3 linked regions of the Homo sapiens genome follow. The protein of the gene in region 1 purifies or fractionates together with the protein of each later gene. This does not show direct contact. Each region holds a gene or a part of one and is shown on either strand. Other genes may lie near its edges.

Evidence for each region. Proteins that work in one complex are often made in the same cells at the same time.
Region 2: the proteins of BTBD9 (region 1) and DHCR24 purify together in Homo sapiens (co-immunoprecipitation; one large-scale study listed by IntAct). This does not show direct contact.
Region 3: the proteins of BTBD9 (region 1) and SHPK purify together in Homo sapiens (affinity purification with mass spectrometry; one large-scale study listed by BioGRID and IntAct). This does not show direct contact.

What each region holds. Positions count from the first base shown.
Region 1 is NC_000006.12:38,167,131-38,171,440, reverse strand, and holds the end of BTBD9 (BTB/POZ domain-containing protein 9), read left to right. Parts: 3' UTR 1-2,990; downstream 2,991-4,310.
Region 2 is NC_000001.11:54,849,196-54,852,695, forward strand, and holds the end of DHCR24 (delta(24)-sterol reductase precursor), read right to left. Parts: intron 3,192-3,500; coding exon 3,038-3,191; 3' UTR 432-3,037; downstream 1-431. UniProt on the Homo sapiens protein: Catalyzes the reduction of the delta-24 double bond of sterol intermediates during cholesterol biosynthesis.
Region 3 is NC_000017.11:3,622,751-3,626,250, forward strand, and holds part of SHPK (sedoheptulokinase), read right to left. Parts: intron 1,482-3,500; coding exon 1,298-1,481; intron 742-1,297; coding exon 589-741; intron 1-588. UniProt on the Homo sapiens protein: Acts as a modulator of macrophage activation through control of glucose metabolism.

The DNA.
Region 1 (4,310 bases):
TAAATCCTATTAAATGAAGTGTCGATTCCTGACAAATACATTAAAAGTGTTTTATTCCTAGAAGAGTTGGGAAAAGAAATTATTTTCAGCAAGAGTAGGATGTTTGTTAAACTGATTCCTTGGCAAAAAAGAGAAAAAAAGCTTTTGAATTGTGCAAAAAATTGCCCAGTATTATGCTGTCGCCCCAGTTGTCAAACTGCTGTGCAGATGGCTCCAGCCCAGTCAACTTCACCTTCTTTTTAATTTAGAAGATAACAAAATTGTAATCACTTATCCTTTCCAGAGCCAAGGGGGAAAAGGAAGGTATAATCTACAATAAAAAGCGAGCGTTCTGTGTACTGAGGCCACTTGGTGATAAAGAGATGGAGCGCTCCCCTCACAGACTTCAATTAAGAACCTCCCTTTGGACAGGGAAGAAAGGTGTCAAAGAGGAAAAGAAAATTAAATTTGCTTCCTTCCAGGAGTTTTTCCTCATTAGTGCTTGCTTGTCGGTGTTATTATTTTAATCTTACCTTCTATGTGGTGACCAGCTCCTCCGAGCGATGCCCAGGTCGGGCACGGCCCGGGCAGGGCAGGTCTGCAGCGATGCCGTGGCAGAGGTGGGCATACTCCATTTGTTTTGGCAGCTGCAGCCATTGATTCTGCATATTTTTCCTGACAACAGCCCCGGCAGGAGTTCAGTTAGGAATTTAAAGTGCAGTTCATGGTTCTGTGCCACCGTGGCTTTTATTATTATAATATTAAATTAGAAGTTGTCCTAGTGCCTGGTGTTTGCTCAGAGTTTCCAGAAGAGAGGGAAGGGCAAGGTTTAAATGGCATGCAGGACAACTGGAATGCCCCCATCTCTCTCGCTGACACGGATCCAGTCATACCTGGGGCTGGACGGGATTTGGAGGCCCTGGTCATTTGCAGAGTGAATGGTGAAGGGCGCGGAAAAGGTTTGCTTGGAGGAAAGACCGGTTGCAGAGGCGAGGCGGAGGGAGGAGGGGCGGAGGCAGCAGGTCTTTGTTTGTGGTAGGTCTCTGGCTTCCATCAGGGAGGAGGAAAGAGGCTGTGCCCTTCCTGGCTCTTGGCTGCACCACTGAGGACGCTCCGAGGGACAGCGTGCTCACCCATCCTTTGCACAGTGCTGGCCCCAAGCCCCACGGCCTTCCAGCTAGGATTTTCTGCTGGGCTCATGCAGAGGCAGGGGACAGGTGCATGGAAGAGCCGCCCCACCCGACACACCATTGTTTGAAAATCACTGTTCTCTTTACTCACTTAAAAAAGTGTACAGGGAACACCTGTTCCTGGCATAATGCTCCAACCTCGCGGAAGGGGCCAGGTGCCCTTCATCTGGCTCTGGCTGCTTCCGACCTGGGCCCACGTCATCGTTCACGTCCTCTGTGACCACCACTGGTCACGGTGCTCCCTGGCCCAGCCTCCAACCCACCCAGCACCCTGGCATCTCCCAGGCCAGTCTGCTGCACCCAGCGAGCTTCCAGTCAGAAGCCAGGCTGAACGGCCCTCCTGCCCCATCAGCTTCGTGTCTTCTTTTTTTTAAAGAACTGAAATAGTCCCCAAGAGGCCTCATGGCCTGAAGACTCACAATCATCCACCTGTAATTTATGATAAATGTCTGGGAGCATTTACCATTTGCGTCCGTGAGTATTTATAGCCCTGAATGGGCGGGGGGGAGGGGGGGTGGAGGAGGCCCTGCAGCCAGGAGCTACACACCTGTCCCCACTAGTGTCCCCTGGTTGACAGAGCCCCCTCAGCCTCCCCAAGGCTGTCACTGCGGCTGTGACAGCTGAGGAGTGCCGCCTTTGAAAGCCAGTGGACAGTCGCTCCACTAGGGGGAGAGGCCCTGGCCCTGGCGCAGAGGAGGCGTTGCGAGGCGGGACGGGGGCTGGAGGGGCTGAGCAGCCTTCAGGGCAGGGACTGGGCCCTGGGTCACTGGAGACGTTGATATTAGTCCGTCTGCTGCCAAATTGCTCCCCACCACATGAGCCCCAGGGGTTTATGTCCCAGGAAGGCGAGGGTGCCCATCTGAGCGGAATTGGGAGGGGACGGCACCAGCTCATCTCCCTCAGGGCCTTTGCCTCCTGGTGCTGCCCTGGTGGCTGCTCCTGCACCACAGCCCCTGATGGCTGCTGCTAGTCCTGAGTTGCTGGGTTTACCCCCAGCCCACACTTCCCACCTGGGCCTGAGGGTGCGGCCAGTGCCCTAGTCCTAGCCACTACAGGAGTCATTCTGAGACCTGCTGGAGGCCATGGGGTCTTCCCAGGCCCCTCAATCAGCTGCTTCCAGGGTCAGCAGGGCAGGGTGCTGCCAGTAAGGTCCTCAGGGAGCACAGCCCGGCCGCCCAGGCTGGGGGATACTGGGGCAGAGCTTCCAGGTCTGTGGGGCCTGATCTCTCCCCAAGGCTCTCCAGGCCTTGGTGCGCCCTCCACAGTGACCTTCAGAGAGGCTGCACCCCCTCAGAAGAACAGTGAGAAATCTCTCCATCACACGCTCCCTGGTCCTTATGTCCCTGAGGCCACCCTTCCCCACCCCCCAGTGCCTGGAGAAGCGTGAGACTCTGGAGGGGCGCCAGGAGGCCAGGGGTCCTCAGGGCTAGGCCTGGAGCTCGGCCCAAGAGCTGCTTTTGCGAAGCCTGTCTTGAATCCGGATTCACCAGAGAACAAGAGCCTCCCAGCCTTTGGCGTTTCTGGGCCTGTAAAGATGTGTGTACCTCCCAGGCCACTCTGATGCAAGGGCAGGGACCATGCCAGGCCTGGGTTGGGAATGGCTCTGTGACTCCAGAAGCTCCGTCTAAAACTCCAAAGATGCCCAAAAGGCTGTGCTGCTATGTGGAATGTGTATTATTTGTGAGCACGATGCGGCTTCTTCCTCATTTTGCAGAGCAACCTAAGCGGGCAGATGTACAAACCGTGTGTTCGAAACCCCTGAGTCCATGTGTGTGAAAATGCAGGTTTTCTCTTAGAAATAAAGTGGTGACTTGTGCTGTATTCGAGTCGTCACTCTCTGCAGCAACCCCTCTCGATGCCCAGGGACAAGCAGGGGGCCCAGGCCAGGGTCAGCCCCTCTGCCCCAGTGCCCTCATATGGACACTGCCATCCGGCCCTCTCTGCAGGCCCAGGCACTCAGGGGTGTCCACCCAGGCCCCCGCTCGCTTCCTCTGCCTTGTGGAGGGAGGCAGACAGCCCTGGAGCAAAGCAGGCACAGAGAGGCCGGCTTGCTCCAGGGCGGCGGCGTGGGCAGATCCAGCGGATTTGGGCCAGCACTGTCACCGGCTCTGAGGGCCTTCCCTCAGGGTGGAGGGGCTGTCCAGCTCCCTCCCACCTCCTGTGGCACTCTCTCCACCCCACCCCATGGCCTATTCGATGCCATTTTTGGGGGGTTAGGAAACACCACCTTGAACCCAGTCCCCTTCCCTTGTCATTTCTCCTCCTCTGAGCTTAGCCCCAGCTGCTTTCTTCCTCATGTCTTGCTTCTTCTACCTGATGAGCCCGTGAGTATTTGGTAGCAACTTCCCCCATTTATCTTGCTTCCCAGGGGAGATGCGGGGAAGGGAACCAGTGAGCCAGGAGGCGGCCCCTTGCAGGCGCTGCCGCTCTCCCTGGCCCCAATCTCGAGTCCTGGGTGTGTGAACTCAGTGTTGCAGGCCCTGCCGTCTGGGATCCAGTGCCCTCTCCTGTGACCCCACAACTGGGCCTGAGTCTCCAGCAACTCCGCTGGTGCATGTGGGGCCCAAGGCTCCATGCGCTGAACATGAGGGACCCCGGCCACCTGGAGCCTTGGCCTCCTCCTGAGCTGTTGTCACGTGGAAACCAGGCAGGGGTCTGCTCCTCTCAGTGGAATTTTTTCTTGGAACCTGCACTAGGGACTCTCCATGTTTTTGGTTAACTTCCACCTGGTGGCTTTGGCCGAGCACTGGGGCTCCAAGTCAGGTGCTCCATTTCCAAACCATGCAGGCATCCTTTCGGGAGCACACCCACCTAGCTTCGATCTTCCAGAACTGACAACTTGTTGCCAATAATTGGCTGACGTGAGTGTTGAACAAGACAAAACCCAATCCAGAGAGCACTGGGCTTTGTCCTGCCACCGCCCCGCCCAGGCCACTGTACCCCCCCACCACCCCCCCATGCCGCCTGCCTCCCAAGTGCTGGGGATGGAGCAGGGAGGCTGCCCCTCTTGCCCTCCCTCACCTTCCAGGGAGCAGACACCAGCGTCAGTGTGAATGTGGCCCAGCCCATGTGCAGAGGGAGAGGATGCCGGGCTGGGCGTGCATGTTGAAGTCCGTGGCCCAGAGAGGCTTCCAGAGAAGG
Region 2 (3,500 bases), on another chromosome or scaffold:
GGAAAGGTAGTCTAGCTATGTGTCCAAAGAATGGAGGAATGCATTTTAATGGACAGCTAGTGGGTCCACTAGTTTGTAGATGAGGACAACAGTCTCAACAGGATTAACTTGCTAAAATTAATTGGTCACAACCAAGTGACAAAGCCAGGCCTCCACCCTAACCAGAGCCACCATCGTCTCACCTGGACTGCAGTGGTGGCCTTCTCACTGGTCTGCTTGCCACCCTGCACACAGAGGGATCCTTTCAACACTTACTCCAATCACACTCTGACAGTGATAGAAATAAACCTGTCAGTTCCTGCATGTTCTTCTAGCCCTCGGCCATGGGCTCATGGGTTCAGTGAGAGCAACTGAGTTGGGGAATGGCACAGCCTGCACCCGAGCCCAGATCTGACTCCACATTTTGGTCCCCCAAGCAAGAAACGACAAACGCCAGCTTCCAGGCCACTTTTATTTAAACAGAAGCAGCGGCCCCACAGCCATGGGGACATGTCTTCCAGACAGTAGACACAGTGCCTGTGGCTGTAAGAGCCTGACAGGGAAGATTCATGCCTTTCTCCTTGGCCCCCATGACCAAAGAAGAAAATAAAAATCACACACCATACACTGCCACACCCATCTCCACCCCTCCCTTTCAGTAATATCCAAGTATTCATCCTTCTGGCCAAAGAAACTGGCTACAATTCTGATTCTAAAGAAAACCTTCATGCAGCCAAGAAACTCAGGGCTCTGGAGGGGAGAGCCTTACTCTGATACTTTCCACATGCACTGCCCACTGGCATCAAGTTTAACTCCATCCAAAACCATCACATGGATGGCCAGGGACAGGACTGGCTACAAAAAAAAGCCATGAACTCAGCTCACCATGCTAAGAAGACTGCCTCTTTCCAGGCAAGATTTTACTGGAGCAACATAACCGGAGGGTGTGATTCCAAAATACCTTCCTTTCCAAGCCCCGGGTTGTGGATAAGGTCTGGATTTTGGTTATATGACTAAGGGCGACAGAGGCTGCTGGCATCTCTGGCCACCGTCCCAGTGGCTTAGGGTTGGAGGCTTCACTGGCAAAACAATGGCACTGTTTAACTAGCTCGTGTTAACCATTCATCTACAGCAAGTAGAATCATCAGTTTTGCACTGAGCAAGGAAGCACATGGGTCTCCTATGAGAGCTAATGCCAGAATTCACATGCTTTGTAAAATATAGGATGAGGTTTATTTCTTTCTTCTGCCCCCTCCAGAGGCCAAATGGGTAGGGTGGTTCCTTTGCCTTCTGAGTGCCTGGATGCCCCCAGCCCTCACAAGACCCTGCTAAGACACTGGCAGTGTGCCAAGCCTTGGGTGGGATGGGTGAACACCCTTCAATGACTCTGAGAGGATTCTGGCACCTGGAATGACAAGACAGATGCTTCCCTGCAAGCCAGGTATGAGCCTTTCTGGAAATGAGATGGGAGCTGACCTTGGGGTTGAAGGAAGGATCTTGAATGACAGATAATCCCCAAGTGTCCACTGGATCATTTTTCCTCTGACTTTCCACACAAATGAGGCTTTCCGTGGGTTTTGCAACCACAGTGTCTAAGACAATCAGAAGGGTTCCAGGGAGGTCTTGTCTGTAGCGATGTGACAGATGAGGAAACTGCAGCTCAGAGGACAATGACTTGCCCACGTTGCACAGCTCGCTGACAGTAGAGAGGGGCTGAAACCTAGGTCTCCTGACTCACACGCCACAACCATGACTGGCTCAGCTCCCTTAATTCCAGCTTCCCTTACATGACGCAATTCCTTCTCAGATTCGGGTTTTCAGCTGAGGCTGGGCAGTTCTTAAGATAGAGTTGCATAAACAACCAAGCTTTGCGTTATAACAAGCCAGGGAAGGACCTAGGGAGGTTCCCTTCCCTCTGGAACGGAAATGGAACTTTCTCTGAGCTTAGGATTTGTAAGGCACTGAAATTAACTACAGCTGGGGTGGGGAGTGGTGGAAGAAAGAAAAAGAGGGATGAGTGGTTGGAGAAATCAAGTCGATGCTCTTTTCTTCCAGCCCCACGGTGAGAATCCTACAGAAACATGAGGGTGGACTCCACTTTCCCACCTGATGCTGTCCACTCCCCAGCCCCTGCTGCAGAGCAGCGCGGACCCACTCCCACCAAGACAAAGTGGGTTTTGGGAAAGATGAGGCCTGCAGGGTTGGTGAGCCAAGAAGAATGAGCCCAGGTCCCCTGGATCCAATTCAGAGCGGAGACCACTCTCTCCACCTAGGTGTCCCAGGCTGAGGCTGGGACAAGATTCAACCCTGGAATGCCTTCTCCAGGAACACAGGGCACTCCGAGTGGACTCAGTGGTGGCTGGGGTGGGCCTGCAGGCCCAGGCATGAAGGAGGAAGGGGCAGGACGGCACCAAGGATGGCAGGGAGAACTTTGGCCTCGGACCTGGCTTTGGCACAGCGCATCTGGGGCCTCCCCACTCCGTGGCTGCCCTCCTGAGATCCCAGGGTGGGGAAGAGCTGTCCTTCTCCTGTGAGGACCTCGTCTGGCTGATGGAGGCGATGGCAGGGCAACTCCAGCGTATCCCCTTCATCATTCCAGCCATGGCTGTGCACAGGTGACCTAATGTGGAGCCTTTTCAGGCTCCACTGCAGATGTGACGCTGAACGGGAAGCAACAAGAGCTACCACTTACCCAGCACCTTCAATGTGACCAGTGCTCAACTCAGATGACAACAACCTGCAAGTAGGTATTACTATCCCTTTCAACTAATGAAGAGACCCGGGCTCAGAGGGGTTAAGGGACTCACCCAGAGTCACACAGCTAATGAGTTCTAAACGGGGAACTGGACTCAGGCTTGTCTGACTCCAAATCCCACATTCTTTCCATTCCACTGGGCTGCCCCCTGGAAGCCAGGAGGAAGGTGGTGTTGGGCTGTCAGGGTGGGAGTTCTGGAGGGGTTTCTCTTTGAAAGTGTGGATCTAGGAAAGCAGCCAAGCTTGAGTGAAGGGAAGATGCCTGACCACTCACACGTGTCTGTCTCTCCAGGCGGGCTCCAGCTCAGTGCCTGGCGGCCTTGCAGATCTTGTCGTACACCTCGGGGAAGGCGTCCTGGCAACCCAGCTTCTCTCGCAGCTTGTGGTACAAGGAGCCATCAAACATCTCCCAGAACTCCTCCCGGTTCATGTAGCAGTCGGCATACAGCATCTGGAAGCTGCAGAGGCAGAGAAGTGGGTGAGGACGCCAGGAGGCACACGGAACGCGAGGCGTGAGAGAAACCCAACTGCTCATTCTGCAGCCCAGAAAAGGCTTTTGGAGGATTTCTCTTGTTTAACCCCGTTAACCTGGTGAAGAAGATGGTGCAGGTATTCTTATCCCCCTTTTGCAGGTAGGGAATTGGGGCTTGGGGGTTAGGTAGCTTAGCAGTGGAGGTAGAGTCAGGAGTAGAGCTCAGACTGCTGGGCTTCTGCCCCTCTGCTTGGCCAGAGGCACAGCTGCCTTCCCTAATGGAGCAGTGGGGTTG
Region 3 (3,500 bases), on another chromosome or scaffold:
CTGGAGTGCCGTGGTGCAATCTCGGCTCACCGCAACCTCCGCCTCCCAGGTTCAAGTGATTCTCCTGCCTCAGCCTCCAGAGTAGCTGGGATTACAGGCGCACTCCACCACGCCCAGCTAATTTTTGTATTTTTAGTAGAGATGGGGTTTCGCCATGTTGCCCAGGCTGGTCTCGAACTCCTGACCTCAGGTGATTCACCCGCCTCAGCCTCCCAAAGTGCTGGGATTACAGGCATGAGCCACCGCGCCTGGCTCTCTAAGTTTAAGTATTAAAGAGTGAAAGCTGTACTCTGAAACCTACAGACTGGGCTCATGGTCACAGAGAAGGGAGAGCCCACCTGGGGTCTGGGCGGCTGTGGAGGAGCAGGACAGCATGGCTGAGGCCCCTACCCAAGGGCTCAGGGCTGTGCTTACACTGGGCCCATCCATGCCCCGTGTCTGGGACAGGCCAGGGGCACTGGACCCTGATCCTGGCCTCTGGGAACCCTCCACCACTCCCAGATGGGAAAGCACCCACTGAAGCACTGGCTCCGGGGTTGCCCTTCAGATTGGAGCAGGAGGAACAGCCTGCAAGGATGTGATACTCACGTCTCTACGTTCCAGCTTTGGCTCTGCGTGTTGAAATAGCCCCAGCTGGCAGCATTCTGGTCGGACATCAGAGGTCTTGGCAAGCCACACAGCATGGCAACCACATAGTCGTGGATGGTACCGGCTGCGTCGTAGGACTTCAGGAACTCTGGGCTGTTTTTCATACCAAAAACAACCAACACGGTATAACATGAACTCGGAAGCATGTGCCGCACCTAGCTGCAGGCAGCAGGGACCAGCTGTGCCATGGCCAGGTGGCAGCCACAACCGCATATACTATGGCTCAAGTCCAGCTGGGTCCCTGGGATTAGGACCTCCCAGCTGCCCCAAGCAAAGCCAGCCTAAGTCAGCCCCAGGGGAAGGGCCTGAGAGGAGGAAGTGTCAAGCCTGGAAAAGCAGACGTCAGCCTCCTCAGCAGCCTCGCAGGCCTGAACACACTGCGAACTCTCCCCGTGACCCTCGGCAAGTCACTTGCCCTCTCTGTTCCCTCCTTTCCCTATGTGGGTGGGAACTGGATAACCAATAGAGAGCCCTCTGCAAAAGGACGTGGTTCTGGACCCAATCGAGGTCCAGGCCATGCTGCATCCTGTCCTGCCAGGACACACTCACTGCGGCACAGCCCAGCAGGCGGGGTGATGCTGACGCAGCCCCGGCCTATTCTCATTCTCCCGGAAACCCAGCACCCGAGTGAAAGTGCAGTTGCCCGTACCGATATTTCAAAAGCCAGAAGATGGTTGCACAGCCGAAGCCCGTGGCCACACTGAGATGAGACTTCGGCTGGGGCAGAGAGGCCAGGAATTCGCTGCTACATCGGCCATCCTGCCACGTGACCAGGTGGCTAACAGCTCGGGGCTCGAACACCGGGGTAATCCCTCCCTCTGTCCATTCACAGCCTGGAACAAAAGAGATGACCAAAAATGAAGAAAAGAGCAAATGACTAGGCATGGCGCGGCCTTGATACTACTCTGCTGGTGAGTGACAAAATATGTGCGAATCGTCCCATGATAAAGCCTGGCACACCTATGGGTCCTGATAGCACTGGCTTTAGTACTTGGCTCTACCACATAATGACTGTGGGACCCTGGGCACGTCACATACTCCCTCCATTTGCCCCACTTCTCTGTTTGTTTTTATTCTTTTTTGAAGTTGATATCATATCTCCCCACATCTCAGAAGATGTTTGGCACAATCTCAAGTCCCCTGGTCTCTGTCCCTCCAACCCTCATCATGACATTATCTAGGCTTACTGCTACTTGATTACCAGTAAATTTTCTCTTTTCCTTAGTTCTTAGCTGATTGCGTTTTATTTTATTTTATTTTATTTTAATTTTTTCAGACAGAGTCTCATTGTGTCCCCCAGGTTGGAATGCAGTGGCATGATCCCGGCTCACTGCAACCTCCATCTCCCAGGTTCAAGCGATTCTCCTGCTTCAGCCTCCCGAGTAGCTGAGACTACAGGCCCACGCCACCACGCCCAGCTAATTTTTTGGACTTTCAGTAGAGACAGGGTTTCATCATGCTGCCCAGGCTGGTCTCGAACTCCTGAGCTCAGGCAATCCACCCACCTCAGCCTCCCAAAGTGCTAGGATTACAGGCATGAGCCACCGCACCTGGCCCTGATTGATTTTTAGACATCCAAATTTACTTTAAAATCATCTGACCGTCAGATTTTTTTTCATTTGTGCCTTGTGACATCCTCTGGATTTTTCTCTGCCCTTATTCAGTGATTTCTCCCAAGGCCAATTTCAGTGTCAGTCTTTCCAGGCAGTGTCTGAAGGCCCAGATGCCACCAAATATTTCTCATGTTCCCATCTTTAAATGCCAGTTTGATTAGTTATAATAGTCTGGTTCTAAGTTCCTTCCCTTCAATGCTTAAAAGCACTTTTTGTGGTCGATTGTTGCAAATTCTTCACTACTCCTCCCATTAAGAGGTGGCATCTGAATCCTCTTTCCTTGAATATAGAATCACCTTGGTGACGTGCTTGACCAGGAGAATGTGGAGGCAGTCACATCTTGGGACTCCCAAGGCTAGGTCATAAGAAGTACTGCAGCTCCCGCCCAAGCCTCTTACACCAGTCTCTCTGGGGGAATCAGCCTTCAGGTAAGAAGTGCGACTACGCCGAGGCCGCCATGCTGAGGAGACCACGGGCAAAGAGCAGCCGGCAGACCGTTTCCAGGTGAGCCCAGCCTCCAGCCTTCCCACCAAGGTACCAGGCATTGAGTAAAGCCACCGTGACCCCCTGGACCAGTCTGTCCACCAGTTGAACACTAACAAGCAACCTCCACCACCACCATGCAGAAGCAGCAGTGGGCTGAGCCCTGCCCAACCCCTGACCCAAAAAATCATGACAGATGATAAATGCTTGTTGCTTTCAGTCACTAGGTTGGAGGTAGTTTGTTGTGCCGCAATAGGTCATCAAAATACTACTCCTGGTCAGGCACGGTGGCTCACGCCTATAATCCCAGCACTTCGGGAGGCCAAGGTGGGCGGATCACCTGAGGTGAGGAGTTCGAGACCAGCCTGGACAACATGGCGAAACCCCATCTCTACAAAAAATACAAAAATTAGCCAGGTGTGGTAGCGGGTGCCTGTAATCCCAGCTACTCCGGAGGCTGAGGCAGGAGAATCGCTTGAACCCAGTAGGCGGAGGTTGCAGTGAGCTGAGATCGCACCACTGCACTCCAGCCTGGGCAACAGAGTGAGGCTCCATCTCAGAAAAACAAAACAAACAAAAAAATGCTACTCCATTGTCTTTTCACACAGAATGCTGCTGTTGAAAAAAATCTAATGTCAATCTGATCCTTATTCTTTCATATGGGATCTGATCTTTTGCTCTGTAAGCTTTTGGAATTCTGTCTTTGAAATCCTTAAAAGTTCACTAGAATATATCTAGCTGGGGGTTGTCTTTATC